Homo sapiens: one gene and its partner. The protein of the gene in region 2 purifies or fractionates together with the protein of the main gene of each other region. This does not show direct contact. Each region holds a gene or a part of one and is shown on either strand. Other genes may lie near its edges.

The links.
Region 1: the proteins of SEC24B (region 2) and SEC16A purify together in Homo sapiens (affinity purification with western blotting; 2 studies listed by BioGRID and IntAct, with this or other methods). This does not show direct contact.

Annotation. Positions count from the first base shown.
Region 1 is NC_000009.12:136,477,864-136,493,629, reverse strand, and holds the start of SEC16A (protein transport protein Sec16A), read left to right. Parts: upstream 1-10,589; 5' UTR 10,590-10,692; intron 10,693-14,799; 5' UTR 14,800-14,921; intron 14,922-15,766. UniProt on the Homo sapiens protein: Acts as a molecular scaffold that plays a key role in the organization of the endoplasmic reticulum exit sites (ERES), also known as transitional endoplasmic reticulum (tER).
Region 2 is NC_000004.12:109,424,864-109,441,002, reverse strand, and holds the start of SEC24B (protein transport protein Sec24B), read right to left. Parts: upstream 7,189-16,139; 5' UTR 7,134-7,188; coding exon 7,001-7,133; intron 1-7,000. UniProt on the Homo sapiens protein: Component of the coat protein complex II (COPII) which promotes the formation of transport vesicles from the endoplasmic reticulum (ER).

The DNA of each region.
Region 1 (15,766 bases), on a different chromosome or scaffold from region 2:
CCGAGGCCTCTACTATGGCTGGGGGCTGCGTCTGCCAGCCAGCGCTGGGCACCAGGACCAGGAGGGGCCACCGTGGAACTGCAGTGAGTGGCCTGACTCTTGTCTTCAAAGGGGGTGACCCAGCCGGAGTCCTGCCCATAAAACTCCCAGCACCCTGAAATTCCACTCCTGGGGGTCTGTCCGAAAGAAGTGAAAACAGGGACTCAAACAAACGCACGTGGCCACTTGCTGTCCCGGCATCACTCAGTACAGCCACAGACAGCCTGAGCGTCCACTGCCAACGACGGGTCAGCAAAACCGTCTGCTGTGACGGTGAACCTTAGTGTCAGCTTGGCCGGGCCATTTCGCCAAACGGAGTGTGTCTCTGAGGTGTTCTGGATGAGGTTCGCATTTGCATCCACAGCCCGGGTAAGGCAGTCCGCCCTCCCCAGTGTGGGTGGGCCCCGTGCGGTCCGCTGAGGCCTGGGGAGAACAATAGGCCGAGTGCCAGGGGTCCTCCCACCCAACCGCTTGCACTGGACATTGGTCTTTTCCTGCCTTCAGACTTGGACTGAAAACGTGGGCTCTTCCTGGGCCTGGAGCCCACCGGCCTTCGGACTCGCAACGCCATCAGGCCTCCTGCCTGCAACTGCAGACCCTGGGAACTGCAGGCCTCGAGGTCGTGTGGCCAATTCCCTGCAATAACCTCTCCAGTGGCACGTCTTATGGGCTCCGCTTGCCGGAAGAACCCTGACGAATGCGCACGAGGGAATATGATTCCACCGTAGAAAAGGAGGCGCTGACACCCACCATGCGGACAAGCCTTGGAAGCACGGTGCTCAGTGAAGGGTGCCGGCCGCAAAGGGCCGCAGGTGCAGTGACTCCATTTCTATGGGGTGCCTGTGGTCACCGAACCCATGGAGACAGAAAGTAGATTGATGGTTCCCAGAGCCGGGGGGAGGAGGAAAGGGGAGTGGCTGCTAAACGGCCCGGGGTTTTTTTTTGTTTTGTTTTGTTTTTATACTTTAAGTTTTAGTTTATTGTGGCACTGTTCACAATAGCAAAGACTTGGAACCAACCCAAATGTCCAACAATGATAGACTAGATTAAGAAAATGTGGCACATATATACCATGGAATACTATGCAGCCATAAAAAATGATGAGTTCATGTCCTTTGTAGGGACGTGGATGAAGACGGCCCGGGGTTTTACTTTGGAGTGACGCAAATGTTCTGGGCCCAGGGAGAGGTGGTGCGTGCACAGCCCTTCGAGTGCACTAAATGCCAATAACGCGGACACTTTTTTTTTTTTTTTTTGAGACGGAGTCTCGCTCTGTCACCCAGGCTGGAATGTGGTGGCGTGATCTTGGCTCACTGCAACCTCCGCCTCTGTGTTCAAGTGATTCTCCTGCCTCAGCCTCCAAAGTAACTGGGATTACAGGCCCCTACCACCACACCCGGCTAATTTTTTTGTATTTTTAGTAGAGATTGGGTTTCACCATGTTGGCCAGGCTGGTTTCAAACTCCTGATCTCAAGTGATCCACCCGCCTCGGCCTCTTAAAGTGCTGAGGTTACAGGCGTGAGCCACTGCACCTGGCCTAACTCGTACACTTTAAAGTGGTTAATTTTAGGTTCTGTGAGTCTCACCTCAATATGTTATTTTTTTTTTTTAATTAAAAAAAGTTTTTGAGACAGGGTCTTGCTCTGTCACCCAGGCTGGAGTGCAGTGGTGCCATGATAGCTTATTGCAGCCTCAACCTCCTGGGCCCAGGTGATCCTCCCACCTTGGTCTCTCTAGCAGCTGGGATTACAGGTGCACACCACCTCACCCACCCAATTTTTTTGTTATTTTTTGCAGAGATGGGGTCTCACTTTGTTGCCCAGGTTGGTCTCGAACTCCTGAGCTCATGCAGTCCTCTCCTCACCTTGGCCTCCCAGAGTGCTGGGATTACAGGTGTGGGCCACTGCGCCTGGCCACATATGCAACTTTAAATATTTCAGTAGCCACATTAAAAAGGTAAAAAGAAACAGGCAAAGTGTATATTAATACTACAGCTTAGTTAATCCAATATATCAAAAATATTATTTTAACACAACATAAAAAGTGAATGAGTTTTTTTTTGTTGTTTTTTGTTTTTTGAGACAGAGTCTCCCTCTGTCACCCAGGCTGGAGTGCAGTGGTGCGATCTCAGCTCACTGCAACTTCCGCCTCCCGGGTTCAAGCGATTCTCCTGCCTCAGCCTCCCGAGTAGCTGGGATTACAGGCACCTGCCACCACGCCCAGCTAATTTTTGTATTTTTAGTAGAGAGGGGGTTTCACCATGTTGGCCAGGCTGGTCTTGATCTCTTGACCTCGTGATCGGCCCACCTCGGCCTCCCAAAGTGCTGGGATTATAGGCGTAAGCCACCACGCCCGGCCGTGAATGAGATGTTTTATATTCTTTTTGTTTGTTTGTTTTTGGTACTGTGTCTTTGAAACCCAGGATGTACAGTACACTCACAGCACCCTAGATTGGGCCTGGCCACACTTTAAAAGGTGTTCAGTATCTCCAGGAGGCTCACGTCCAGATTCGGACTCTTCAGCAGGATGCCAAGGGGGCTCCAGACAGTTCCACCCAGCGCAGGAAAACACCAAGTGTATCTTCAGCCTGGTGACTCACTCCACGCCGCTGCCGGCGTGAACCCCGAGTGTGGCGCTGCGTCCCTCTGGATAGAGCAAAGGAGGGTCCCAAGAGCCCGGAGGCACCAACTCATCAGGGCCCACAAATCAGGCCCCCGGCAGGCAGGGCTGCCTCCATCCAAGAGGGAAGCACGGTGCCGTAGCCCCCGGGCTGCTCCAGGGATCGACAGGCCTGTGCTGCCTTCATCCCAAAAGTCTCACTTGCAAAGGGTGTCCGTGGGGCTCAACTGCGTGCTCAGCGGTGGACTGATTTCGTTCTGTGTGGCTCCTTATCTCATCGTGGACCCAAATCCACGAACCACACATGAGGAGCTCTGCTGGAGGGGGCAGCACTGGGCAGAGGCAGACAAGGGGGAGCGTCACGCGGCTGTTTCCCGTGGTGAGCATCCACCAGCAGCGGTTCCTGGTGGGACACCGACGTATTCGTCTGCAAAAGTAAAAGTGTTTCAAAACAAAACCGGGTCCAGCTTGGTCCCGGTGCGTTGAAAGTGCTGGCGTTGGCCAGGCGTGGTGGCTCACGCCTGTAATCCCAGCACTTTGGGAGGCTGAGGCGGGTGGATCACAAGGTCAGGAGATTGAGACCATCCTGGCTAACACGGTGAAACCCCGTCTCTACTAAAAAATACAAAAAATTAGCCGGGCGTGGTGGCAGGCGCCTGTAGTCCTAGCTACTTGGGAGGCTGAGGCAGGAGAATGGCGTGAACCTGGGAGGCGGAGCTTGCAGTGAGCAGAGATCATGCCTCTGCACTCCAGCCTGGGCGACAGAGCAAGACACTCTCACAAAAAAAAAAAAAAAAAAAAAAAAAAAAAAAAAAAGTGCTGGCGTTAGTGGAGGTCTCTCAGAGGGGGCGTTGCAGGGCCTCCCACGTTACTCAGGCTTTGCAGACGAAGACGCAGGGTCAGTGAGTGAGCGAGCTTTGGGAAAGGCTGTTCTTCAATCTGCATCTTGAAGGTGGCTGGGTGGCGCCTCAGTCGCCTGCCCCGACGTGACTCCCGATCTGGCTGCTTTGTGTCTTTGCTTTCCACCTGGCGGCTGCTGTCCTGGCTGTTGCTGTACCTCAGTGTCCTCGTGGGTCAAGTGGGGACCTGGGTGCTGGCCCTGGGCCTGCGATGGTGAGCTGCTGGTGCACGCTGGGCATGGGGTGAGGGCTCAGAAAGGGAACAGCTCTTGTTATCGTTAGGAGGTTTTCAATCGCATTCTTTGTTCTCCACCTGCATGCCGTGTTGGCACAGTTAAGCCTGGCGGCCCCTTCAGCAGGTGTCCTAACCGTCTACATTTTAAGATGGACAAGTCTAGGCTCATGGAGATTGCAGGACTGAGCTGCGAAGCTTTATTCATGCCCAACACGACAGGTGCCAGGTGCCCAGGGCCTCAGAGGTGGGTTTCCGTTGTTCTTCACACAACCTTGAACTTGTGGCCCATCCCTGGACCTTACAGCACAGGACACACTCTCAGTGTTTGTTAGGAATCTATAATTTTCTGCGGAGTCACGCGTGATATTTGCTGTGGCTTTTGGTATATCTTCCACTCTATCGCACGGGATTTTCTGGTGAAAATGTGCCCTGGGTCCACACAAACGTGCACATTCTACCACAGCCTTTGTCGTTCTGTTTGGCATTTTTCCATTTAATAAAATGAACCTTAGAAAAGTTATAACTACGGCCAGGCGTGGTGGCTCACACCTGTCATCCCAGCACTTCGGGAGGCCGAGGCGAGAGGATCACCTGTGGTCAGGAGTTCCACACCAGCCTGGTCAACTGGTGAAACCCCCCTCTCCACTAAAAATACAAAAATTAGCTGGGCACCATGGTGGGCACCTAGAATCTCAGCTACTTGGGGGGGCTGAGGCAGGAGAATTGCTTGAATTCGGAAGGAGGAGGTTGCAGTGAGCTGAGATTGCACCACTGCACTCCAGCCTGGGGGATACAGTGAGACTCGGTCTCAAAAAAAAAAAAGAAAAGTGTATAACTTTACTTTTTTTTCTTTTTGTGGAGATGGAATCTTGCTATGTTGCCCAGGCTGGTCTCAAACCCCTAGGTTCAAGTGATCCTCCCACTTTGGCCTCCCAAAATGCTGAGACGACAGATGGGAGCAACCTCACCTGGCAAGCGTGCACCTGTTACTTTGGCCGACTCAGAGGCGGCTCTCTGCCTCCCCCTGGTGGCACTGCTCTGCCAGCGCCCCACAGGTCCTCCCGAGTGACCACAGGGCAGAAATGGCCCTCACCCCACGCCCAGGGCCATCCCCCGCGACACTGCTATTATCCTGTTTTACACATGAGGAAGCTGGGGCTCAAAGAGGTTAGGCGACTTAGCCAAGTTCGCCCATTCACTGAGCCAGGGCTATGTGATTCCCGGTCCGTGTCAAACCACGAGGAGTCACCTGCCCTCAGAGGAGCAGGAAGGCCTGTAGAGTTGATGCCATCCAGCCTGGTGACTTTTCAGACAGGGAGACGGCTGCTCAGAGGGGAGAAGGGGGTTGTTGGGCCACTTTGCCAGGAGTCAATACCATGGCCAGCCTGGCATCGGATACTTTGCCAGGAGTTAATGCCACGACTGGCCTGGCATCGAATACTGGAGCTCTTCCCAGCTCCACCCGGGCCCTTTTCTCTTCCCTATCTACAGTCCCCAGGCCACCAAGTCCATGTCCACCACTTAAATCATCACTCAATGCTCAGGACTGTCTCCTGCCTGCTGTGTGTGAACCCCGTGCTGTGCTGGGGTTGTGCCCTCGGGGACTCTCCCGGGTTCTTGGGGACTCTCCTGGGTTCAGCGCCTCTTTCTCCTAGGCCACCCAAGGCTGCCTCCTGGGCCCTGGCTCTCCCTAGCCCCTAGCTCGAACCCTAACCTGGAGAGCCTTTGGGGCCCAAACTGGTTGCATCGCTCCTGGCTGAAAAGCCTCTGGAAGCTTCCTATACTTCCAGACACCACCTGCGGGTCTCTTAGCAAGCCTACAGAGTCCACACTAGCCTACGCCCACTGGCCGCTCACCCCGCAGAAGCCTCATGTGGACTGTTCACTTCAGCCAGAAATGCTCCTTCTCCTCCTGCCTGTCCCCAGCAGACACTGCATGGTGCCCTCTGTATGGGCACCTCTGTGGCCAGCCAGCATCCATGTTCCCCGGAGGCAGAGTCTGGGCTTGTCTGTCTCACGGCCACAGCCCAGCTCCTAGCAGTGCCTGGGGTACAGCAGGGACTCAGCAGACATCTGTGCATGGTTTGGGGATAGAGGACTCGTGAGCTTACCAAGACCCTGCCTCAGCTCAAGGACAGCCAGCAGTTCCTCCTGTGGCCCTGGGGGCCTGCGGTCCCAGGTTACTGTGACATCGACATCAGCCTTGAGCTTTCTGCTTCATTCCTAGTGCTTTTTAGCACCTTACATGGTAAGTACTTGGCTCAATGATTCCAGAAAAATGTTCTCTGAGACCTGCTATGTGCCCAACATGCTTGAAGATGCTGGAGATGAGGAGCATGACGCTCCTGCAGTAACGAGGCTGCTGGCAATGCCGTCAATGTGCCCTGTGCCTCCGGGGAGGCCTGGTGTGGAGGATACGCTTGCCACCCTGTGAGGTCAGGTCCAGGAAGTCCTTGCAGGAGGCCGGGAAAGGGCAAGGCTGTCACCTTCTTTTACAGGGGAGGAGGCAGAGGCTTGGAAAGGCCAGGTAGCTTGCCCAAGGCTGAACACCTGGGTAGTGGCTGAGGGTCTCTGACTTCTGGAAGCTTGCAGTACAGCTGGACACACGGTAGTTAGCCCACCATTGCTGGAGCCATCTTACCTGTGCTCTGCTAGCCAGGTGGGCGCCCAAAAGGAGATGCCTTTGCCTGTGCTGGGAGGAGGCGCTGTGGGACCCATTCCCCAGCAGCCGAGAGCAAGGGCACATGTGCCAGGGCGGGGATGCACCTTCAGCCTCATGTCAGCCCTGGGAAGGCCTAGAAAGTGGACAGTGCTGTCTCGCTGCACACCCCTGGCGAGCACACCGGGCGAGCACTCCAGGTTAGGGTGGGGCTCAGAGGTGAGTAGAACACGGGAAGGGGGTGGCAGCGTGGTGAGCATGTTTGCGGACCCTATGCTGTGTGCTTGGCAGGCCTTGTGCATGGAAGTGAGTGGGACTGAAGCTCCCTCCACACTGCCCACCATGGCCCTGGGGGTCTGGCCTTCCCCTCACAGAGGTGACTTCCTCTCCTCTATGAGGGTAAGAAGAGGAAGCCTGGCCCACCCTCTGGCCAGCCTGGTGGCATGCTGACAGGGAACCCCTGCAGGGGCCTGATGAACAAACGCCACAGAACAAACTCTACGGACCCTGCCTCCAGATCTGCTTCCTCTCCCCTGATTCCAGCTTCCCAGCCCTATTCCCTCCTCCTCCAGGAAGAGCTCCGTGTCAGTGCTCTCCACCTTGGAGGCCTTCATATGTTTTTTTGCCTGGACCACCCAGCTAACCGTCTCACAGAGACTGCCCCTTCCTCTCTCCAGGCCAAGCCTCCAGCTTCAGCGTCCAGGACTAAGGGTCTGTGTCAGGGGCTGAGGACAGTGTCCGGCAGGGAGCAGGCCTGCCCAGTAAACCTCCACAAGCACCCAGACATACTCGCCACTGCTATTTTACACCAGGTAGGAAAGAGGAGCAGAAGCTCACAGTGAGGGGCCGTCCTGCGTTCACTGAGACTGCTGCTCTGCTGGGGGCTCCCTGGAGGACCGCCACTGGCCCGCCAGTTGTCAGCAAAGAGCCAGGTCCACCCATCAGCCTCTGGCATTTCAGGCCCCTATCATAGGAGGCTATAAGCACAGGCTAGGGGTGCTGAGTGCCTGCCTTCTAGACCAACACTGTCCAGTGGAAATGTAACACCAGCCCCATGTGGAGTTTTACATTTCCCAGCAGCTATGTCAAAAACAAAAGAAACAGGTGAAATAAAATTAAATAGTATTTTGTTTAATCTGATACATCCAAGATATTGTCATTTTAATATGCAATAAAAAATGATTGATTCGATATTTGCATCCTTCACAACCTACCATGTAGTTTACACTCAGAGCCCAGCTCAGTCTCACAGCAAGCACCAGCGGCCCCCGTGCTGGACAGCATGGCTAATGGGAGGAGCTGACCCGTCGGAGGCACCAAGGTCACGCTGTGACCAAGGCTGTGGTGACGCAAAGGCAGCGGGTTTCCTGGCACAGCCTGGAGGTGCACCAGCCTGTCCTGTGTGCTCTGCATAATGTGGTACAGCAGTGGTCACAGAGCTTTGCACCAGATGCTGATTCCAGCCCACCTAGGGGGGTTCAGGGAAGTGGTGACACTTGTGTCCAGCCTCCAGGTGTGAGCAGGGGCAGAGACTTGGAGAATGGAGAAACCAGCGGATGCTGCAGGCAAAAGCAGCAAAGCCCCACCAGGAATAGTGATGGCCACCACCGGCGGGACACCTCCCAGCACTGGGTGGAGGCCTCTGCTGGCTCGCAGTCAGTCACCTGATGTCCCCATTCGCCCCTGCCATGCTTGTTGTCCTGGCAACCCCATTTCAGCCCTGAAACGTTTAGGTGCTCATCTTGCTCTATCTTAGAGATGAAGACCTGATGCTCAGAGACTAAGGAAGTTGAAAAAGGGCACACAGCGTCTCAGGGGCAGGCTGGGCCTTCAACGGAAGGGTCTATGGCCCAGAGGCTGGATGGGCTCGGGTGTAGGGTGCAGGAACCCTCCACTCCACATCAGGCTACAAACTGCTGAGAGCTGTCTCCGTGCACTCAGGATTAGGGAGAAGAGGGGGAAGAAAGACAGCCGCGCCCCCTGCAGGTGATGTGGTGATTCACACCCCTAGGAGCCAACAGAAGCCGCTGTCTAACATCCCTGCCCTGAGGTCCAGAGACCTTGCATTTTATGCCTAGGGCAGGGTTGGTTTCTGCAGCTATGGTCTCTCCCATAGCTTAGTGCCCACCCCGGTGGGACCACAGGGTTTCGGAGGACCCTAGAGGGTCGAGCCCTGGGCTCCTGGCTCTTGGGTTCTTTGAACTCGCGAGCGGCAAAAGGCGAGCCCCACGCCTGAGAGGCAGCATCCACCTCTGCATCCCCCTCTTTGGAAAGGGCAAACAATGACACCTCCTTCCGCGGAGGGTGCAGAGCGCCTCGACCACTGGGAAGAAGCAGATGGGGGCAGCGGGGCTGGGGCTGGGCCCTACCACGTGCTCCCTAACTCTGTTCAAACAGGTCAGGAATCTGACTCCTGAAAGGCAAATGTTAGCTGAGCAGATTGGCCCTGGTGCCACGTCAGCCGGACTGAAGCTCTCCCTGCACCGCCTGCGGCCCTGCTGGCGTGGCACGGATATCACCCCCTCCCTCACCAGCCGCCGGCCCAGCTGGGGACAAGGGTGGCTCCCACCCAGGGAGGACCTCAGCCGCTGCTGGGAGCTCAGCCTCCCGCGATGCCATCGGGCGGGCACCCCCACCACGGCGCCTGCCCTCTGGAAGGAGCAGCAGAGGAAGGCCGCGGCTCTTCCCTGCCCTTGCCAGGCAGGTGTGCAGGTGAGTGGGCCCGGCATGGCTGGCCGCTTCCTCAACCGCTCAGCCTCCCTCGGCTCCTCCGAAAAATGAGGGCACAGAGGATAGTGCCCACCTGTTCCCTGCGATCTTCCGCGGGAGGGCGTGGATGCTGCCTGGCCTGGCCGTGGCAGGCACAGGAGCGCCTACCCGCCTCACCCCTCCGCTGGGTCGCTCTGGCCGCCCGAGCGCCCGGGCCCACTCGCCACCGACGTGCACTCAGCCAAGGCTGGGACCCCAGCGCCCCTGTGGGGCTGGCGGCCGGGGGAACGAACCGAGTAGGCCGCACCTCCCCGGGAGGACAGCAGGGCTGGGGCCAGGGTGGGCCTGGGAGGGCCCGGCGCAGCAAAGGCGCAGGGCGGAGCTTGGGGACGAGGAGCCCGCGCGTCCCCCTTGCGAGTCGGCGGACACCCGGCTCCGCGCGGTGGCCGGGCCGCCCCTCCCTGCCCGGGCCTCTGTGCAGAGCGAAGGGACAGTAGAGGATGCGTCGGGGAAACCCCAGGACGCTGGCCAGGGACTGGCGGCAGCCATCGACCAACTTCCGGCGCCGCTCGGTGCCCGCGGCCACGCCGTAACCAGGCAACCAGCGCGCAGGCGCAGTCGGCCCTCCGCGTCCCGCAGCTCCGGCCGCTCCCGGCGCATGCGCGGCCGCCGCCGCCTGCCCTCCAGCCTCCCAGCCCAACGGAAGAATGCGAGGAGCGCGCCCGCGTCAGGGCCCCGCGCTTCTCAGCTGGGCGGAGTAGCCGTTCTCGGTGCGTGAGCCTGCTGGCATCGGTCCTGCAGACTGATTTCCCGCTTGTGGCCTTGATTGAAGAATCCCATCTCTTCTCACATCTTAAAACGAAAAAAGACTGGGAGAAAGAGCCAGCGTAAACAGGGCGACGTACTGGGACGGCCCCGGCGCGCCTGGCCGGGCAGGTGGCGAGGGGCGGGGCCAAGCGGTGAGGCGGCAGACGGACGCCGGAGGGGGGCGGGGCCACGGGCGGGGAAGGACGGCCGAGGGGCGGGGCCAAAGGGGCGGGAACGACAGGATGAGGCGGAGAAAGACGGACGACGGGCGGGGCTAAGGGGGCGGGACGAAAGAATGAGGCGAGGAACGACGGAAGAGGGGCGGGGCCAAGGGGAGCGGGAACTACAGGATAAGGCGTGGAAGACGGGCGGGGGGCGGGACGAAAGAATGAGGCGGGGAAGAACGGACGCCGGCGAGGGGCGGGGGCAGAGGGGGCGGGACAGAGGGATGAGGCGGGGAGGACGGACGCCGGCGAGGGGCGGGGCCGAGGGATGGGCTGTGAAGGGCTGAAAGAGAACGCGTCTGGGCCGACGAGCCGAGGGGCGGGGCCAGGGGCGGGGCGCGCGCTGATGTCGTAAGCCGGACACGTCGGCGGCGCGGCGGCCGCGGAGACCCGAGCCGGATGTGCCAAGATGGCTGCGGCGGCTGAGGTGTCTGTGCTCGTCGCCAGCGTCGGGTGGGCTTTCGCCCGCGGCTCCTGAGGGATCGGTCTCAGCCGCGCGGGTGAGGGGGCGAGCGCGGGTGAGGGGGCGAGCGCGGGAGGAGGAAGGCGGAGGCCGGCCGGCGGAGCCAGGCCGTGGAGGTCGGGGCGCGGAGGAGAGGAGGCGGCTGGGCCCAGCCCCGAGCGGGCGGTGCATCTCGGGTCCCGCCGGGGCCGGTCGAGGGGACAGACGTCCGGGCCCCCGGGCCAGAGCGGAAGGCCGGACGCGGCGCGGGCCGCCGTGGGACTCGAGGGACTGACGTGGACCCGGCTGGGCTGCGGTGACGCCGGTTCCCGGGGCGGGAGGCTGGACCCCCAGGCACCCCTCGTAAGACTCTTAACTTTTCAAATGAGCGTGTCTTGTCCTCACCGGCTAGAAGGCTTCCTTAGCGATGCTGGTGAAGAGACACATTTACATTTGAACCAAAGAGCAGAGTTGTTTGTTTGTAATTTCTTGATTGGGCGATCAGGATGTTGCAACAGAGGCCGAGGGTTAGAGGAGTGTGTGTGATCCGGCTCGCCCCTTTGTGATGGAAGTGTTACAGTAGAGCCTTCAGAAACATCAGAGCCATTTAAAGTCAGTTTTTGCCGCTTAAGAACACTTTTAAATGGCTTGTAAGTTGGGTGTGGATTGTATATTAAGATTTTGTTTTACATGTGTGATGCCGATGTTAACCAAAGAGGTATTTCCCATCCCCCATGTGGCAATACGAAGCAAACGGAACCGCAGACGGTTCTTCCTAGAAGTGATACTTTTGCAAGTTTCAGCACAATGCAGCCTCCCTGCGTTTTTTCCTCATCCCCTTTCTTAAGTTTCAGGTGCTGGTATCTTGTAGACAAGAGGCAAAATAGCGTGTCTTTCTTGTTCCTTGTTCCTCGTTTACTGTTAATAGTGGTTACTACAGTGAGTCTCAAAATTGTACTTAAAGTTTTCTTTGAGGCAGTGGGCACTTTTTTTTTCTTTTTCTTTGTCTTTTTTTGCCAAATCCAGCAAGAGGTCATGGTAGTGGGTAAATGTTAATGTGATTTCTTCTTCTGTAAGCATCTTTCATGAATACCAGGGTCTTCGTCATTTTCATCAGTGTTAGGCTGCTGGCCTCCTCTGTCGCTGGCTTCCTCTTCAACATCTAACTGTATGTGGTTGCGATTCTAACTTAGAAGAGTTGGAGTTGATCATGTCTTTGTGTCAAGCATCCCACAGTCTGACAGGGCGTCACTAGCAGCCACCGTGAGGGAGACTGTAGGCAGTAGGTAAACTCAGGGGCTTCCTGGCACACTATTGTTTTCCTCACTTAAAATATGAAGCCAGTGGCAGCAAGAGGAGAGGGGTGTGCATGCATTTTAAATGCCTCAGTTCTGTAGCCAGAACTGTACTAAAAAGAGTTTTGCTTAGGTATCCACATGGTTACAAGGCAGTTTAACTGACTAGCTAGGTTTATGAATACTGCATTTTCAAGATCAGCTGGCCTCTTTGGAACAATAAAAGAATTAGATGACTTGAGGTTACAGAATAAAATTCCCTGGGCCGGGCGCGGTGGCTCATGCCTGTAATCCCAGCACTCTGGGAGGCTGAGGCGGGCGGATCACGAGGTCAGGAGATCGAGACCATCCTGGCTAACACGGTGAAACCCCGTCTCTACTGAAAATACAAAAAAAAATTAGCCGGGCGAGGTGGCGGGCGCCTGTAGTCCCAGCTACGCTGGAGGCTGAGGCAGGAGAATGGCGTGAACCCCGGGGGGCGGAGCCTGCAGTGAGCCGAGATCGCGCCACTGCACTCCAGCCTGGGTGAAAGAGCAAGACTCCGTCTCAAAAAAAAAAAAAAAAAAAAAAAGAATAAAATTCCCTGTAGTGGTGACATAGGTGATAGGCAGTTGCATTGTTTTTCTCCTGGTGAGTAGAGAAAAAGATCAAAAAAATCAGTTCAAGTCACAAGATTGTTCCAAATGAAAGTGGCATGTTGCTAAAAAGCTCTCAATTAGGGAGCATGAAGGTTGGAATGCTCCTTGTAAGTGATAATGTTTGCCATAAAAAAGCTCTTAGTCTAGGAGAGCTGCGGAATAATTTTTTTTTTTTTGAGACGGAGTCTCGCTCTGCCCAGGCGGGAGTGCAGTGGCGCGATCTCAGCTCACTGCAAGCTCCGCCTCCCAGGTTTACGCCATTCTCCTGCCTCAGCCTCCCGAGTAGCTGGGATTACAGGCGCCCGCCACCACGCCCGGCTAATTTTTTGTATTTTAGTAGAGACGGGGTTTCACCGTGTTAGCCAGGATGGTCTCGATCTTCTGACCTCTTGATCTGCCCGCCTCGGCCTCCCAAAGTGCTGGGATTACAGGTGTGAGCCACCGTGCCCGGCCACCCCTGTTAAACAGCAGGTGGGATTAGGACATCCCAGAATCCACTGTGAGTAGAATCTCATAAGATTAAACCCGGGTTTTTTAGGAAAAAATAATCACATCGATTCTCGCATTTTATAGACAAAAATACATTGCAGAAAGAGGAGTGGCTGCCTCGAGCCACTCACCTGGACACTCAGTTTTGCTCTCACAGCAGCAGCCAAGGAATAAACCTCTAGGCCCGTGCTCTGTGTTTAAAGCAAACAAAAGCTTTTGAGGATGATAAGGATCTTCCCGGGGAAGGCCATGTCTTGAGAGATGAGGTAGGACCCCAGTTCTGGCAGCAGAGTTTCAGGAGGTGCTTGGAAGTTTGCGTGTTCTGGCCGTGGTTGCAGGTGTCGCTGTGTCTGCTGTGGCTGTGCAGCTGGTAGGACCCAGTGGAAGATAATGCCAGTGCACAGATCAGAGGAAGATGCTCTGCCTGTTCTCCTTTCAGTCCATATAAAATAGAGCTGTGAACATTCTTTGTTTTCAGATGAGAGCCTAAAACCTCCATGAAGCCTTTGCTGCTGTTCCTAGTAAATAGCTTGACTTAAAATACATTGATCAGTGTTTTCTTCTTTTTTTTTTTGAGACAGTTTCACTCTGTCGCCCAGGCTGGAGTGTTGTGGCTTGAACAAGGCTCACTGCAGCCTCAACCTCCCTGGCTCAAGCGATCTTCCCACCTCAGCCTCCCGAGTAGTTGGGACTACAGGCACGCACCACCACGACCGGCATTTTTTTTTTGGTGATGGGGTATCGCTGTGTGTTGCCCAGGCTGGTCTCAAACTGCTGAACTCGAGTGGTCCTCCTACCTCCCAAAGTGCTCGGCTTACAGGTGTGAGCCACTGCACCTGGCCAGTGTTTTCTTCTTTTATCTGAATATCAGAAAGATTTCCAAGAGACCAAAATAATATACATCTGCAAAGATGTGTGGATTGGCCAGGCACGGTGGCTCACGCCTGTAATCCCAGCACTTTGGGAGGCCGAGGCGGGTGGATTATGAGGTCAGGAGATCAAGACCATCCTGGCTAACATGGTGAAACCCCATCTCTACTGAAAAGACAAAAAATTAGCCTGGCATGGTGGCAGGTGCCTGTAGTCCCAGCTGCTCAGGAGGCTGAGGCAGGAGAATGGCATGAACCTGGGAGGCGGAGCTTGCAGTGAGCCGAGATCGCACCACTGCACCCCAGTCTGGGCGACAGAGCAAGACTCCGTCTCAAAAAAAAAAATGTGTGGATTAAACTACAGAGTCCTCCCCTTTGGTTTAATTTTTCCTTTGATTGGCTAAACTTATCTGTTTGTTCATGAGGGTGGTGCTGACAAGAAGAAAGACTGATAGAAAGAAAAGAACTTTCCTAAAGATATAGTCCTTGAATTTTTGCCTTAAGAGGCCAGGTTAACTATTCAAGTTTGTATCTACTATGTTTTATTTAAAAACTGATGGAGGTTTTTGCCCCTTTCTTTTCTGTAAGAGGTTTCTTGGCAATTCTGCCTGTTGTTGAAAGTGTTGGAATCCAGTCTGTGCCTTGTAAAGCTGCTTTAAGTTTCCTGGGAGTTTCCATTCCAGGCACAGTTACGGCTCCAGTTCAAAGGTAACATCTTGCTGGTGGTCCTTTCAGACCTTAAGCCAGTCACAGTACAAAAACGGAGACCTATGAAGAGGTGTGATAAAAGGCATTTAGATGAATATATTTATTTTGCAGTGCTTTTTAAAAAAATGATTGTGTCACTTTTTATTTATTTATTTTTTTAAAATAGAGACCGTCTTGCTCTGTTGCCCAGGCTGGACCGCGGTGGTATAATCATAGCTCACTGCAGCCTCGAACTCATGGACACAAGTGATCTTCCTTCCTTAACCCCCTGAGTCCCTGGGACTACAGGTGTGTGCCACCATGTCTGGCTAACTTTCTTCTTTTGTAGAGACAAGGTCTTGCTATGTTGCCCAGGCTGGTCTCGACCTCCTGGGCTCTGGCAGTCCTTCCACCTTGACCTCCCAAAGTGCTGGGATTACAGGCATGAGCCACTGCACCCAGCCTATTTTGCAGCTTTTATAACTATACTTCATAATGCTCTTTCATCAAAGAAAATGGAAGAATGAATTTTAAACTTTTGTATCCCTTTTGAAATTTAAAATTAACATGTATGGAAAGTATGATATAAAGTTTTCCTTTTTTTTTTTTTTTTTTGAGCTAGGGACTCACTGTGTCACCCAGGCTGAAGGGTAGTGGTGCTGTCATAGCTCACGACAGCCTCAACCTCCCAGGCTGACGCAATCCTCCTGCCTCAGCCTCCTGAGTAGTTGGGACTACAGGTGTGCACCACCATGCCTGGCTGATTTTTGTATTTTTTGTAGAAACGAGATCCCCCTGTTGCTCAGGCTGGCCTCGAATTCCTGGGCTCAAGTGGTCCTCCCGCCTTGGCCTCTTAAAGTGTTGGGAGTACAGGCGTAAGCCACCATATCTGGCCAGTTTTTCTTTCTTAATAGAAGAGTTGGCTCTTCCTGGATCTAGGGATGGTTTACAGGAAAACATTGAGTATCTGTGGGTCTGGTAGCATATCACAGCAGTGGTCAGGTTCCGCACTGTCCCTGTTGTTGTGGCGCGGGTCTGCGGCAGCAATGGGCCCTGTGAGTAGAGGATCCCAGGGGAGGGAGTGGCCATCTAGACATACTCCATCAGCTCGCAGCCAGGCCATCCAGGGTTCTCACTCTGTCCCCTGCCCCCCA
Region 2 (16,139 bases):
CTATTACCAGAAACCTTCCAAGAATGCATTTGCGGACATAAGGGATGGAGGACTGGAAAGCAGAAGAAAATAAAGAGAAGACTAAAATAGTGATTGAGCCTTAAATACAAAAAAGGGGAGAGGGAGCTGGCACACAGACTCCTGTCAGTGGCCAGTCTTCAAAAGCAATAACGAATAGGAAACCAAGTTCACTTAACTGAGTGCCTATTACAAGCTGCTACTACTGGGCATATGATGAAGAAAACTCATATGGTTTCTGCCACCTGAAGAATTTATAAAACGGTGTTCTGAAGAAAATGGAAGGGAGGGACTCTAATTGCTAAGCTCCTTCTAGGGCTAAGTACTTTAAAAATAGTACCTTATTAAATGTAGTTCTATAAACAACTCTGTAAGAAAGGTATTATTATACTCTGAAGCATGTTAAGTAAGTTTCTCCACAAAAATTTGGGCTATATCAAAGCCTACAACCTTTTCACTAGTCCACTCCTTCTGGACAATTCTGAGTATGCTCAGCCTATTGAAAATAGTAGCTTCTCCAGGGCTGAATATATATAACATGATCTTTTCTAACAATGCTGACAATGAAGATGCCTCATTTCTAGGAAAGAAAATTATTCTAATACCTTTAGCATAAAATACTTCAGGAATTACAGATGAATTGGAAAGATAAAGTAACATGAAATACTAGTGGTGGCAATGAATATGGTTTACAAAATTAATTACTGCTACAATCCCAGAAACTTGGGGGGAGAGGAAGGGAGTGAAAAGACACTGCAAACAACTAAAGCAATATATATAGCAATAAAAAATAAAAATTAAACCCAGATATAAGACCCTTGTTTACATATGGAGTGAATACTTTAAGATCTTTTTTTTTTTTTTGCGACGAAGTCTCGCTCTTGTCCCCCAGGCTGGAGTGCAATGGCACAATCTTGGCTCACCACGACCTCCACCTCCCAGGTTCAAGTGATTCTCCTGCCTCAGCCTCCCGAGTAGCTGGGATTACAGGCACCTGCCACCACGCCTGGCTAATTTTTGTATTTTTAGTAGAGACGGGTTTCATCCTGTCGTCCAGGCTGGTCTCAAACTCCTGACCTCAAGTGATCCGCCCGCCTCAGCCTCCCAAAGTGCTTGGATTACAGGCGTAAGCCACCATGCTCGGCCTACTTTAAGATCTTTGAGATATCTATCAATCAGCTTAGAGCCAGGCTCAGTGGCTCACGCCTGTAATCCCAGCACTTTGGGAGGCTAAGGCGGGTGGATCATCTGAGGTCAGCAGTTCAAGACCAGCCTGATCAATATAGTGAAACCCTGTCTCTACTAAAAATACAAAATTAGCCAGGCATGGTGGCGCATGCCTGTAATCCCAGCTACTCGGGAGGCTGAGCAGGAGAATCGCTTGAACCCGGGAGGCGGAGGTTGCAGTGAGCTGAGATTGTGCCATTGTATTCCAGCCTGGTCAACAAGACTGAAACTCAGTCTCAAAAAAAAAAAAAAAAAAAAAAAAAAAAAAAAAAAAAAAAAAAAATCAGCTTAGGAGGAAATTATGTATTCAGACACAGTCACTTTAATACCACAGGGGTATATTCATGAGAGGACCTGATGCTTCCGGTTAGCTATAAATGGAGACTAGAAACCTGAGACACTGATGTGGCTCTGATCAAAAGGAACTTATTTGAGATACACTAGGGAGATTTATATCATTTTAAATGCTGCATGTGCCCTCAAAGTTTAAGGGTTTCCAGTGACTGACCCGATAGTACTGCTGTATGAATGGTATGTTTATTTACATCTTCCATAGTGAGTTCTAGTAATTCCCATTACTATCTCATCTTTCTTGCATTATTAACAATTAAAGTGATAAAACTGTAGTTTCATTCTGGAAAAGGGCATATGGAAGGATTAAAATATACTTTCATTTGAAAATGAACACCATTTGCTTCCTAAAAGTAAAATTAAAAAGCAGCAGCTTATTATTAAATCTGACTGCCCCATCCCCTCACCTCCCAACAAGTTCATTACCAGGCTATTACTTTAGTCAGTCTTCCTACGTTTGAGGACTCAGCTTTGGAAGGAATCCCAAAAGGCAGAGTAAAAGGTAAGAAATATTCAATTAATGCTTGGTATGGAAATACAAATAGTTTTAAAAATCCATATATTGCTCAATGAAAAATGAAGGATAGAAATACAACACCAAGGAAGGAAGCTTAAGAGAAAGATTTCACAGACTTGAAATCAAGTCAAGCTGTATCTTCGAATAAGTGGAGGAAACATGCTAGCAGTTACACCTAGAAAACAAGTAAAAGTGATCATGAAGACTAGGTTTTCTGCCTCTCTATTCCTTTCTTCTCAAACATCAAAGTTTCTAAAAAGAATTTTCTTAGAGTCTGTTAACAGAAAGAGATCTTTAGGCTGGGCATGGTGGCTCATGCCTGTAATCCCAGCACTTTGGGAAGTCTAGATGGGAGGATCACTTGAAGCCAGGAGTTTGAGATCAGTCTCTACAAATTTTTTTTTAAAAGTTAGCTGGGTATGGTGTCACACACCTATAGTCCCAGCTACTCAGGAAGCCATGGTGGGAAGACTGCTTGAGCCCAGGAGTTCAAGGCTGCAGTGAGCTATGATGGCAACACTGTACTCCAGCTTGGGTGACAGAGTGAGATTCTGTCTCTAAAATAAATAAATAAATAAACAAACAGACAAAAAGTTTTAAGAAGAGATCTAGAGTTGGAATTAGCAAAAATAAAATGGACTTCATTTAATACATGTCTAATGAATACCTGTAACTTGCCTATACTGTTCTAGGCTCTTATTATACAACGTGAACAAGAGACAGAAAAAACTGCCACCCTCACAAAGCTTTCACAGAATTGGTAGAAAATGTACCTACTTAACCTTTCTGAATCTTCATTTCATCTGTAAAGGTAGGGATCCAAACTATGTGTTTTTCAAACTGTGCTTAAAAACAACTGAACTTCTACTTCTATTTTAACCGCAACCACTTTGCTTTTTTCTGATTTCTCTATCAGGGATCTATATACAATATCCTTTGGAAAAACAAATCTTAAAAAACGTTTGTGGGCCAGGCACGGTGGCTCACGTCTGTAATCCGAGCACTCTGGGAGGCCGAGGCAGGTGGATCACAAGGTCAGGAGATGGAGACCATCCTGGCCAACATGGTGAAACTCCATCTCTACTAAAAATACAAAAATTACCCAGGAGTGGTGGTGTGCGCCTGTAGGCCCAGCTACTCAGCAGGCTGAGGCAGGAGAATCGCTTGAACCCAGGAGGTGGAGGTTGCAGTGAGCTGAGATCGTGCCACTGCACTCCAGCCTGGGCGACACAGCGAGACTCCGTCTCAAACAAACAAAAAAAGTTTGCCATTTGCTAACCACTTGTAAAAGAAAAAACAGGGCCCAGCCCAGTGGCTCACACCTATAATCGCAAGACTTTGGTAGGTCTAGCCAGGACGATCACTTGAGGCCAGGAGTTAGAGAACAGCCTGGGCAACATGGTGAGACTCAGTCTCTACAAAAATAAAAATAAAAATAATTAGCCAGGAGTGGTAGTGCATGCCTATAGTCCTAGCTACTTGGGAAGCTGAGGCAGGAGGATCACTTGAGCCCAGGAGGTTGAGGCTGCAGTTAGCTATGATGGAGTCACTGACTCCAGCCTGGGTGGCAGAGTGACACCCTGTCTCTAAAACAAACAATAAAAAACAAAAAACTTCTTTCACTCTACTCTCATTCTGCACAGACCACTTCTGTGACCAGATGTGTGAATTTTTGTTTTTATTTTTCCCCAACAGACACCAACTGGGGGTCCTCCAACTCAATTCAATTCTGACACTACCTACCTGAAGTTAGACTCGGATCCCACAGATTAAGGGTTCAGTCCCACAAGATGGCTCCCCACTTCAGATGCCTATCATAAGTATCACAAGTAGCAGGTTGCCATCTGTACTTCTGAGGAACCAGTTACAAACTGGAGTTTCTACTACCCCCTCCTTAGGTTCAATTACTTTGGTAGAAGGGCTTGTGGAAGTCAGGAAAACATTTAAATTTATTGTTTATTATAAAGGATATTACAAAGGATACAGATGAACAGCCAAATGAAAGAGATGTACAGGGCAAAGGATGGGGGCAGGTGCCGCCACCCTCCCAGCATCTCCACATGTTCAGCAACCCAGAAGGTCACCAAATCTTACTGTTCCAGAGTTTTTATAAAGCTTCATCTCCAGCCTATCCACTCCCCTTCAAAGGGGATGATGGGTGGGGACTCAAAGTCCCAACTCTCTAATTACTTGGTCTTTCTGGTTACCAGCTCCAGCCTGAGGCTGTCTAGGAGACCCATCCTAAGTCATCTCATTAGCACAAACTCAAATGTGATCAAAAGACTCCTTATGAGTAGCAAGCGACACTCCTATCACTCAGGAAATTACAAGGGTTTTAGGAGCTGTTACAGGAACCCAGGACAAAGGCCAAACGTATTTCATATCACACCACAACACTGAAGTGAGTGATTTCTAGGTACCATTCCAGTTTTACAATTCTGTCTGTTTTATGCTCATATTTCTGACCTATTTCTTTTTCACCATGTCTGGAATTCCATAGAGATATATTAAAAGGCTAACTACTTTTGTAGGACTGAAAAATAAATGAGAAACCCAAATGACTGCTTACTACATGCTGATACCACGTAGCAAACTTTTTTTTTTTGAGATTAGCAAACAAAACAAAAAGAGATTTAATCTTGTTTCTCTACTTAAACTAATCCCTTCCACAAAAACAAAAATCCTTCTGGAGGATAAGGTGTGAGGATCACCTGAGCCCAGCAGACCAGCCTGGGCAACACAGGGAGACCTCGTACTCTACCTGACCCTAGTTCTTACACTTTACCATAACTTTCAAATTTCCTAGCATAACATTTAAGGCCTTTCTGCAACCTGACCCCTTTTAACCTGCTCCTTTCGGCTTCGATGCCTTGGCTTCCCATGCCACCCAGCACCCTCTGCACCTCTTGACTCCTTCCACTTTCCAAGCATGCCCTGCACTTTCATATTTCCAAACTTTAGTTCATGCTGTAACCTCTGCCTAGAGTCAACCTTTCCCTCCCACCCCAACCTGTCGAGTCCCTCAAGGCTAGCCAGAACCAATTCAAACATTACCAAATACAGGGCAAGTCAGGAGAGAGGCAGGGACTCTGTCTCATCTGCTACCCTAACCTTGAGTCCCCAACTGGTAAGCATGCAATAAATGTTGAAATGATTATTGCAACATTAAAGGAAAGTAGTGATTATAAACAAGAGAACTCAAGCATCATCTATATTTGGCATCAAAACATTGATTTGTTCTTACAGATTTTAACATCCTGATTACACTTGGCTGAGTACATATCCTGGCATTCTTGAGTGTTCACAAAATTTATAAGGCTGTAATAAACATTTGCCACTTTAAAAACTGTTCACTAAGATGATAATGCATATTCAGAAAATCAAGGAAAGACACAATCCTTGAATCACTGGTAAACATGAGTCTACAATGTTCTAAAAGACTTGGGCTCTTTTACTAAATTATCGTGTTCTAGTTCCTTCATAAAGCTATTTTAAAAACAAACAAAAACAAGAACTTATATTAAGGTTACAAGAACAAACACTGCTCACAAATAGTATTTTTACATTTGTTCAGAACAGGTTTATATCCAAAAGCGATTATAGTAAACAATGACTACTGAGAGTACAGCATGTAATACTGATAGGTAAGGCTGATCCAAAGAATATTAAGGCTAAAGTATCACTCAACTTCTGATCCTCAGGACAAACGATACACTTCATGTTTGAAAAGCATCAGTTGTAAAACTTAGATGTTGATTAAACTAATTCATAAAGTCCAGCAGATTTTCATTAGGAAATTAGATAAAACAGGTCAATCATCTGGAGAGTACTAATGCAGTTTGGTTCTCGTACCAACACAGGACAGAGGTATTTTTCTAAATTCAGTCAATTACTTTCCAAGGTTCTCATCTGACATACTAAGAAGTCTGTAAGGAGAATTCCTCCACCCTTGGCCCCTATCCGCGAACATTCCAAATCTCAGCATTAGGGAATGCATATCCATCATTTTGCAGCCTACTAAAAGCCCACGACCTTAATATGAAAGCGGCTTTCGTGCTGCATTTGGCTGCTGCCTGTATGAAGGCCCTGCCTCAAAGCAGGGCCAACTCTGGCACGTTTTTTCATCTCTGAAAGTGGAGCTAGGAAAAACACCCAGATCTAAAGATGTTCGTTTAAATCCGTTTACATCTGCTCCCTTTCAAACACTACAAGCAAACTCCAAAAGCTTGAGCAGCAGCCGCAGCGGCAATGACAGTTCTTGAGGCCGAACTGGGTCAGGGTTACAGTTACACTTATATAGCATATTTACACCCTTTTGTCTACAAACTTGAGTGCAAACTTAAGTTTCCTCAAGGCAGCGTGTTCGCTGGGCCTCGGGAACCGAAGCAATTTTCCTGAGACAGGAAGGGCACAATCCACCCTGCTGGGTGGCTGCACCAGCCTTCTCCGGACCACGCACTCAGCGGCCTCGGCTTCTGGCCAGCTCTCGCAGCCAAGGGGTCGCTCGGGGCAACTCGCCCGCGTCCAGGCTAGGTAACTGGGTTTTACTACGTGGGCTCCCAGCTTTTCAGTCGCCCCTACTCGCCCGAGGCCGTTTCGGGCCTGGGGTCGCATTACATAAACAGCCACGGCCCCAGCTTTCCCAGGCCGGCCCCCGCCCCCACGCCAGGGGCGTCCCACCCCCGCGCGCCCCGCGCCGTGCCTTCCCTGCCCCCTACCCGCACCCAACCCGGACCCCGCGGCCTCCGCACCGCGCCCGCTCCCGTCCCTCGGGCCGGGCCTGGCCCCGAACGCCCTTCCCGGCCCGGCCCGCCCCGCCCCGATGTGGCCGTGCAGGCCGCCCAGCCGGTGCTAGGCCCCGCGCTCCGCCCGGGCCGCCCGCCTCACCGTTCTGCTGGTGCGGCGCCGGGCCCGCACCCGGGCCCGCGGGCGCTGCGGCTCCTGAGACGGCCGCTCCGCCGAACTTGGGCGGGATCCGGGCGCTGGCGGCCGGGTGAGAGGACCCGGCGGGGGCCGACATGACGGCGCTGGTGGCGACGGCGGCTCCGCTTCAGGGAGGTGGGCGGAGGGAAGGGAAGGCGGGGCCGGAGAGGAGAGAGGAAGAGGAAGGAACGCGCCTGGCGTCACTGAGGGTGTCACCCGGGACCGCGGCTCAGGTACCCAAGCTTCTCCGCGAGTCCAGCGCTGCCACTCGGCGGCCGCCGCGGGCGCGGGGATCCTGGGTCGCTCCGCCTTGACCCACGCGCCCCACGCCCCGGGACTTACACCTGGGGTCGCTCCCCGCACGCGCGGGCCTCGCGCCGGTGCCGCCGCAGCGCCCCCTGCAGGCCGGAGCCGAGCTGGCCCAGGCCTGAGTCTGGCCCGGGGTTCCGTGGCCCCAGTGCCGGCCCCGCGGCTGCTGCTCCGGCCCGGCCAGGTGCCTTCGTGTTGAGGCGAAAGGACTGGGCCTCAGTGGGTGAAGGGACCGGGTGGCCCGCTTCCACCTAGGGCAGAGGCTGGATCGGCCGCGGCGAGGCTGGGCCCAGCATTACTGGGAGGGGAACTTGAGAGCCGCGGGTTGATGTTCGGAGCTCAGGCGACGACTGACCACCCACCCTTCCTCGAAGAGGAACAATGGCTTGGGTTTGGTTTTTAATTTTTGATTCCCCCACCTCCCCTTTCTTGATTCCAAAGGAAATATAGCATTCAAGCGCCATGTCTGTTGGGAATATATAATTCCTTGGCAAAGAAAGAGGAAACATTTCTCTGATAAACACAAGAATCTCAGTAAGAATTGCATTATTGAGAACTTTTCCCACTGATAAAGTAGGGAAGAGGAAGGGGAAAATAGGGTAAGGGAATGCTGGAAGACAAACTTTAAACTTTATCTCCTTTTTTTTTTTTTTTTTTGTCGATTGTTGGTGCATCCTGTTGGTGTTCCGAGAAGTTGTGGCTCAGCTTGCTTTGTCTACATTAGTGGAATCTTTAAGTCTTTCTGGTCTGTCTCAGCATACTCACTGGCAGGCCCTAGACTACATTACCCAAGTCATTTTGCCGTCTTGGAATCCTGAGTATGTCATCACTCTGTATTGGAGATGAGATTGCTCAGAAACACTGAATTCAGAATGGGATCTAGCAAGATGGTATTTCTGGAGCAATAAGTCATTTACTGAATGATTATGCAAAGCATAAATTGCATTGTAGTCCTAGAATAATACAAAGCTTCCCTTTAGTTGTTGCCGTAAATTAATAACTGGCATTTTAATGCACTAAATGAATTTTAGTAGTTAGATTTATATCTTTGACTTCTAGGAATTTCAACTACATTAGAGTTCATATACACAAAAGGGGCAAGCCCTTTTCCACAGCATTTCCAGCTTCTCCACAGAAACCTAGCCCCACATGAGCAAAAGATCACACTCTGTGCTTCATCAAAGAGATTACACAATTACAGATTCCAGCATCTCCCAGGAGTCCTTTGAATTTGGATTAAGGTCTATAATTACGTGGGTAAGGGAATAACTAGGTAATTGGCTTTCTGCACCTGGAATGTATTCTCCTGGGTATAAGAGGCTCCTTTTAATCAGAAGTATATGGGATGAAAGTGAACCCTGTCTCTTAAGGGGAGACTCCTTAAGAGGAGGATTGGGGCCCTGTGTTTTAATAGATCTTCTCCACAATCTTTAATACCTAAGCTCCTTCCCCTTGTCCACTAATTTGCTGTAGAATTTTTCTAGCATGTTTATGATGGTGTTCAGGGCACACTACCCCAAAATATAACACCTTGGCATATTGAATGTTTTAAGCTGATGGAATTTGAGAAATGGCAGGTGTGAGGACTCTGACCTTCCCATGAAGCAGGTCATAAGACCCTCATGTGAGAGATGCCCTCTCTATACCTGGAGAAAAGAAGCAGTCTTATTTGTGAAGACAGAGAGACGCCAAGAGGAATCTAAATGAATAGGCCTTGGTAGGTTTCCCCCAGTTTACTGCCCTTAGCCCATCTTTTTGTCTTATCACAGTTTTCCATAACAGTCTACTCTTCATCAAGCTTGGTATAAAACGCTCAGGTTTCTTCAGGTCTTCGTTTCCTTATGAAGGCTCTGGTGCCATGTAAAACTTACATTAAATATCATACATTCATATGCCTTTCTTTTGTTACAGGAACCCCAGACGCACGGGCCTTGTGCTGTCGCTGCCGTGGCACCCCTTCTAGAAGGTAGATATTTTTCCTCCTGACAAACACTACAACCTTTATGAAAATATTTCACTCTTTTGCTTTAATTTCCATTACTACTATAAGTGAAAAAAGGATGAAGAATTGAATGAATAGGATTGAACCATCTACTAGGCACTGTGCTTGTAAATCTAGATATGTATTTTTTTCTATTTAATCCTAACAATAACTCCATGGGATATTTTTCTTATCCCTATTTTATCTGTGAAGAAACTAATGTTTATAGAGCTGAAGTAATCTTAGTAAAAATCATGAACCTGGAATTAGCAGAACCAGCGGTCAAACCAAGGATTATTTAGCTCCAGACCATTGCTTTACTATAAACTATACTGGGTTAATTTACATTTTTCTTCATAAAGCTATGCTAGTTATGATTTACTGTCTTGCTGTCAAAAGATTTTCAGTTTTTCATATTTAGAATTTGTTCCAGTGTACTCTACAATGGTAGATCTCAGAGTTTTTGAAATGCAGATTTGTGGGCCCAAACCCTGGACCGTATACTGATTCAGAAGTGGTGGAGATAGGGCCCTACAGCAAGCTCTCCAGGCAATTCTGATGCATGGGGAAGTTTGAGGACCACTGCTTTTGAATAGCAGAGTTAAGCTGAATTGGTTCATTCTCTTACTTTGGAAGATGATGGTCCTTTCTTTCAGGACATCTCTTCAATCTTTTACAGACCAATAAAAGTGATATTTTGTAGATTTGTGATTACAGTGTCACAAATGCCAATTATGATGTTTCCTATGTCAACTCAGATTCTCTGAGGTATAGTGTTGATGCAGATGCTGAGGCCAAGTCTGTTCAGTGAGAAAGAGTGGGTAATTGAATTAATCTCTGCTGCATATATGGAAGTGAAATAATACGTGTGTTACTATTTGTCATCCCCAACTTAGGACTCTATTCTCTATAACAGAAGTGGGAGCCTTGGACAACTGAACGCCTATCTCTAGCTCAAGAAATGTCAGCTCTTTTTTTTTTTTTGAGACTGTCACCCAGTCGGGAGTACAGTGGCGCCATCTTGGCTCTCTGTAACCTCCACCTCCTGGGTTCAAGCGATTCTCCTGCCTCAGCCTCCTGAGTAGCTGGGGCTACAGGTATGCACCATCACTCCTGGCTAATTGTTGTATTTTTAGTAGATAATGGGGTTTCACCATGTTGGCCAGGGTGGTCTCAAACTCCTGACCTCAGGTGATCTGCCTGCCTCGGCCTCCCAAAGTGCTGGGATTACAGACGTGAGCCACCATGCCCAGCCAAGAAATGTCAATTCTTTATCGTAGCCTGGCTTTCCATATTTCTCACTAGGGTTTTTATTCTCTAGTTTGTAAATCACATTTGGCGTTTGTAGATCACTCCTTCCCTTTTAGTGGCATTCTCTATTAGGTGTCCATCTCCCAATATGAAGAAACAGTTTTCTGCTTTTTCCTCCTTTATCTGATCCATTTACAGATTTATTACATTTATAATAGGCTAGGTATTGGGGATACAAAAATGAATAAGATATGGTCTGTTTTCAAAGGTATGCAGAAACTTTTCTATATATTCCTACTGACTTGTATTTGTATTTCTTGAATTAAAAACAATCCTGGCTGTGTTTTTTTTTTTTTTTTTTTGCTCTTAGTGAATCTTTGTTTCTTCTTTTCATTATGGCATTCCAGTTGAGTTTCACCACGCATTATCATGAGAATAAATAATTTCACTGACTTTAATAATATTTGATCACTTATGTTGATGTCATTTAACTCTCATTTACATTTCAGTGGTCTAAAACACAACTAAGATACTAAAAGAAAAATAAAAGATGAGATTATTGGCAAATAATTACCACATAGTCAACTCATGAACAATAGTGCATGCACTTACAGGAAATTCTCTGATTGTCACATAAACTATTTGGCTGTTGTTTCAGACATGCTGTAATTTCTGTAGTTAGACACTTAACTAGTCCACAGCAGATTAGAAACTATGAATCACAAGGCAAGGGAAGGAAATGCTGTTAATATAGGTAGTTTGAGAGGAGCAATCTCTATTAGTTGGCAGAATAAGCACAGGAAAAACAAGACAATTAGAAAAATGAATTAAAAATGCACGGTATTCTGACACAATTAGTTACATTGAACAACCCTATGTATTCCACTGGAAATATGATAAACATAGTCCACAAGTCTCTGCCATCTGAGAAATTTATAACCTAGTATTCTGAAGGAAATAAAGTGAAGGGAACTGTCACATACCGAACACCTGCTTTATAACTTGAAAGCGCTTTATGACATCACCATATATCAGGACCAAAACAGATATTCATAGATTTGGTCCTCAATTGCAAAGAAAAATTAAATTATGTTCTGTACTCTGTTTCAGAAGACCAGAGGAATACAGAACCCATTTTGGAACTTTAGAAACTCTTACATATGAACAGGTTAGGTTCCAAAATTTCCATTGTTCGTAAGTCCCAATACTCACAAGTTCGGAGTAAGCCACATATGCATTTCCAGAAAACAGAAAAGTGAGGCAGTCCTTTGAAACTTTAGAACAAAGCTTACTCTTCTTTTTACTGATATAAGTTGTATAGTGGTGCAACCCAGACTAAGGCGCATATGAATCTCTTGATGATCACGTTAAAATGAAGATGCTTATTGGGTAGGGTTAGAATGACCTGAGAATCTGCATTTCTAGCAAGCTCCCAGGTGATGCTGATGCTGATGCTGCTGATCCATGGACCACACTTTGAGTAGCAAGGTTCCAAAGGGCATTTTTTGTTGGATTTACATTTGAAGTCCCTTAAGGAAGGAAATGCCCCTCCTTAATGAGCCTAAAGGAACTTCTTAGCAGCTGGCGTATATTCACACCTGCTACCACTCATGTTGATGTTGTACAGATTAAAATGTGCCTAGCGCTCTTGCTTTCCATAACTTTACTTTCTTAGGCCTTTAAGATACTTGAACCATCTCCTAATGGGTTAATGGGTGCCCAGAGTTGACACTGATCCTCTCATCACATGGTCAACAGTGTGTACATTTTGTCAATTACTTTTCTTCTTACTGATTATTGTTATATAAAAATGGTGAATTAGTCTGCTTTGGCCACCATAACAAAATACCTTAAACGAGGTGGCTTAAACAACAGAAATGTGTTTTCCCACAATTCTGGAAGCTGGAAGTCTGAGATGAGAGTGCCAGCATGATCAGGTTCTGGTAAAGGTTCTCCTCCTGGCTTGTAGATGGCCACCTTCTCACTGGTCCATACATGGCAGGCAGAGATGGGGAGAGAGAAAGTTGTCTGGTGTCTCGGTATAAGGGCACCAGTTCTATTGGACAAGGCTCTGCCTTTACGACTGCATTTAACCTTAATCACCTCCTTAAAGGCCCTCTCTTCAATATAGTTACATGTGGGGTTAGGGCTTCAACATATGGATTTTGGAGGTACAGAATTCAGTCCATAGCAAATGGCATTTTCATATGGCATGAGTCACTCTTTGCTTTTCAGAATTGTTCCCAATTTCAACTGGGTCATACCACTTTATTGTATATTTATTACTATGAATTTTCATTTTTCAATCTCTGCTTTTTTAATCTTCACATCACTCTTACTACCACCTTCAAAATTCTCACTGCTTTCTCACTGACATCAATGTTGGGATTAATATTTATAAAGCACATTTTAAAACATAAACTCATAATAGGCCCCAAATTAATAAAAAGATGACCTACATCAGGGCACCACTACACCAGGGCACACTGAATGAGTGCAATTCATTAAAAGATGTATTAAGATATTAATCCTCTTCAGACATTGGGACAACTAGGGGGTACTCAAGTGATCCTCAGGCTAGTCTCCTTTGGCTGCAAGCATCCTTGTCTTTTACCCAACAAAAATATCCTTATTTTCTAGCTATGTTATAACATGAAGAGGCTGGGAAGCACTGCCCTAGACTAAAATTACTAAATTACTGTGCACAATCTTCAGTGCCATCTGCTGGAAGGAGACAAAGTTACTATACTATGGTTCTAGAAGGTAGATTTATGTATTCGTTCATTCATTTGAGACAGGGTCTCACTCTGTTGCCCAGGCTAGAATGCAGTGGTGCAATTACAGCTCACTGCAGCCTTGACCTCCTAGGCTCAAGTGACCCTCCTGCATTAGCCTCCCAAGCAGCTGGGATTACAGGAGTGCACCACCACACCGGGCTAATTTTTTAAAATTTTTAGTAGAGGTGAAGTCTTGCTGTGTTGCCCAGGTTGGTCTCTCAAGTAATCCTCCAGCCTTGGCCTCCCAAAGTGCTGGGATTACAGGTGTGAGCCACCATGCCCAGCCTAGATTTATTTTTATGTATAAAACTAAGTTAAAAGATCATACGAAGGGGTATTTCTGTGTTACAAAGGATTGGTTTTAAAACTTTTTTTACTAGTTGAAAGGATAAACTTCAATTACCTGAAAAATGTAAAACACAACTGTTTCTTTAAAAGAGAAAAAGCTAGACAAAAAATGTTGTTGGGGCAGACACAGTGGCTCACACCTGTAATCCCAACAGTTTTGGAGGCCAAGGTGGGAGGATCACTTAAGCCCAGGAATTTGAGACCAACCTGGGCAACAGAGTGAGACCTTGTCTGTACAAAAAGTTAAAAAATTAGCCAGGTGTGGTGGCGTGTGCCTGTGGTCCTAGCTACTCAGGAGGCTGAGGCAGGAGGACCACTTGGGCCTAGGAGGTCAAGCCTGCAGTGAGCCATAATTGTGCCACTTACACACTCCAGCCTGGGCAGCAGAGTGAGACTCTGTCTCAAAAATAAATAAATAAATAAATAAAATTGTTGAACATACTAATTCAGTTAGAAAGGACACACTTTTAAAAAAGAATATTGATAAGTCAGAGCACCACTATGATGGCAGGGTGTTTACAAAGCTTGTGGTACACCATATACAAAAATCAACTCAAAATGGACTAAAGACTTAAAAACCTGAAACTATAAAACTAATAGGAGAAAACATAGGGAGAGATCGTGCCACTGCACTCTAGCACAGCGACAGAGTGAGAGTCTGTCTCAAAAAAATGAAAAAATTAAAAGATTTTTCCGTATAACAACTTTCTTCTTCACTAACGAAAAGTAGAAATCTAGTATAGTCCTGTAGACAGTTTCTATGTAATAGATTAAAACAAGTTAAAACAGGAATTTCTCCCATAAGATTCTCTCCTTCTAAATACAACAGAGTAGAAGGGGCAGGTGTGGTGGCTCATGCCTATAATCCCAGGACTTTGGGAGGCCAAAGCAGGAGGATCGTTTGAGACGGGAGTTTGAGATCAGCCTGGGTGCATAGAGATACCCTATCTCTACAAAATAATTAGAAATTAGCCCGGCATGGTGACACAGCCTTGTAGTCCTAGCTGCTCAGGAAGCTGAGGTGGGAGGATTGCTTGAGCCCAGGTGGTTGAGGCTGCAATGAGTCAGATATATATATCTGGCTTTATATATACACCTTTGTTTTATATGTATATTATATACTTTATTATATATACATAAAACAAAGTAGAGAATGTTAGTCCCCGGAATTTCTCTGTAAGAAAATGTCTCATGCAAAAATCATTCAGGAGGAGAAAAATATACTTTGTAGGGGATGCTACATGCTTCTTGCCAAGAAGAGAGAGAGAAATGGGAGGCCATTAGCTGTCTTCTATGTATGGTTGGTGGGCAGGGGTACAAGAGAAGCTTCTCACTTTTACACCATGTGGGAAGAAGGTAGTGAACAGGGTAGAAAGAAAACTGTGAGATAACAACATGGAAGGATTGGGAGATTGAAAGAGGAGGAGAATTTTAGCAGCCGTCATAAGTAGGGAACTTTGGAGGGAGGAGAGATATAGAGAAGTATTGTTGGAAGCTTTACTTTCTATTTTTCTGGGAGAGACCCCTGTGTTACACCTTTACGGAAACTCATAATAAAAATCTCGATCGTTTATCAACATTAGTCTCATTATTTTTGAACGAGAATCCCCACAGAAATGATATCACATGACACTTGAGTTGTAAATTGTACAAACTGCATTCAGAAGCCATCACCAAGGCCTAGCTGTTCTTTTTCCTGAATCTAGACCATTTATGTCATATGAGTATCTACTTTCCAAAACTGAAAGCTCCTCACTTGGTCTTCCACAGAACTCCAGTGGAGCTCTAAATTGTATAGCTGAAAATGGGGCATATAATTCATACACTTTCACCATAATTCAGGGCAGGGAGGGAATGTCACTGGTTATGGTATCTGTTAGTTTTCCCTGTTAACTGACATTTGGAAAATATGTGCTCTGAGACACTCACACTTTGGGTTTAGATAACGTTTCTTCTCTCGGTGTCTGTGTTTCATGTTGTTGTTGTAATTGGCCAATAGCGCTGTAGTTGCTGCCAATATATAAGTTTGTTGCAGATACAAAATATGGACATTTTGATAGTTAATGTGCACACACACATAATACACAATAGGCATAGTCATAATTTTGTTACATGATCATTTGGCACAAATGATGAAACTGTGCACAAGTTACTATAATTAATGCCCTATACTTTCTTTTTCTTTCTTCTTTTTTTTTTTTTGAAACAGAGCTTTGCTTTTGTAGCCCAGGCTGGAGTGCAATGGCTCAATCTCAGCTCACTGCAACCTCCGTCTCCTAGGTTCAAGTGATTCTCCTGCCTCAGCCTCCGAAGTAGCTGGGATTACAAGCATGCACCATGCCCCGCTAATTTTGTATTTTTAGTAGTGTAGGGTCCAGCCCTACAGGGCCTGTGGGTTTTTCCTTAGTGTGCAGAGATGAGAGATTGTAGAAAAATA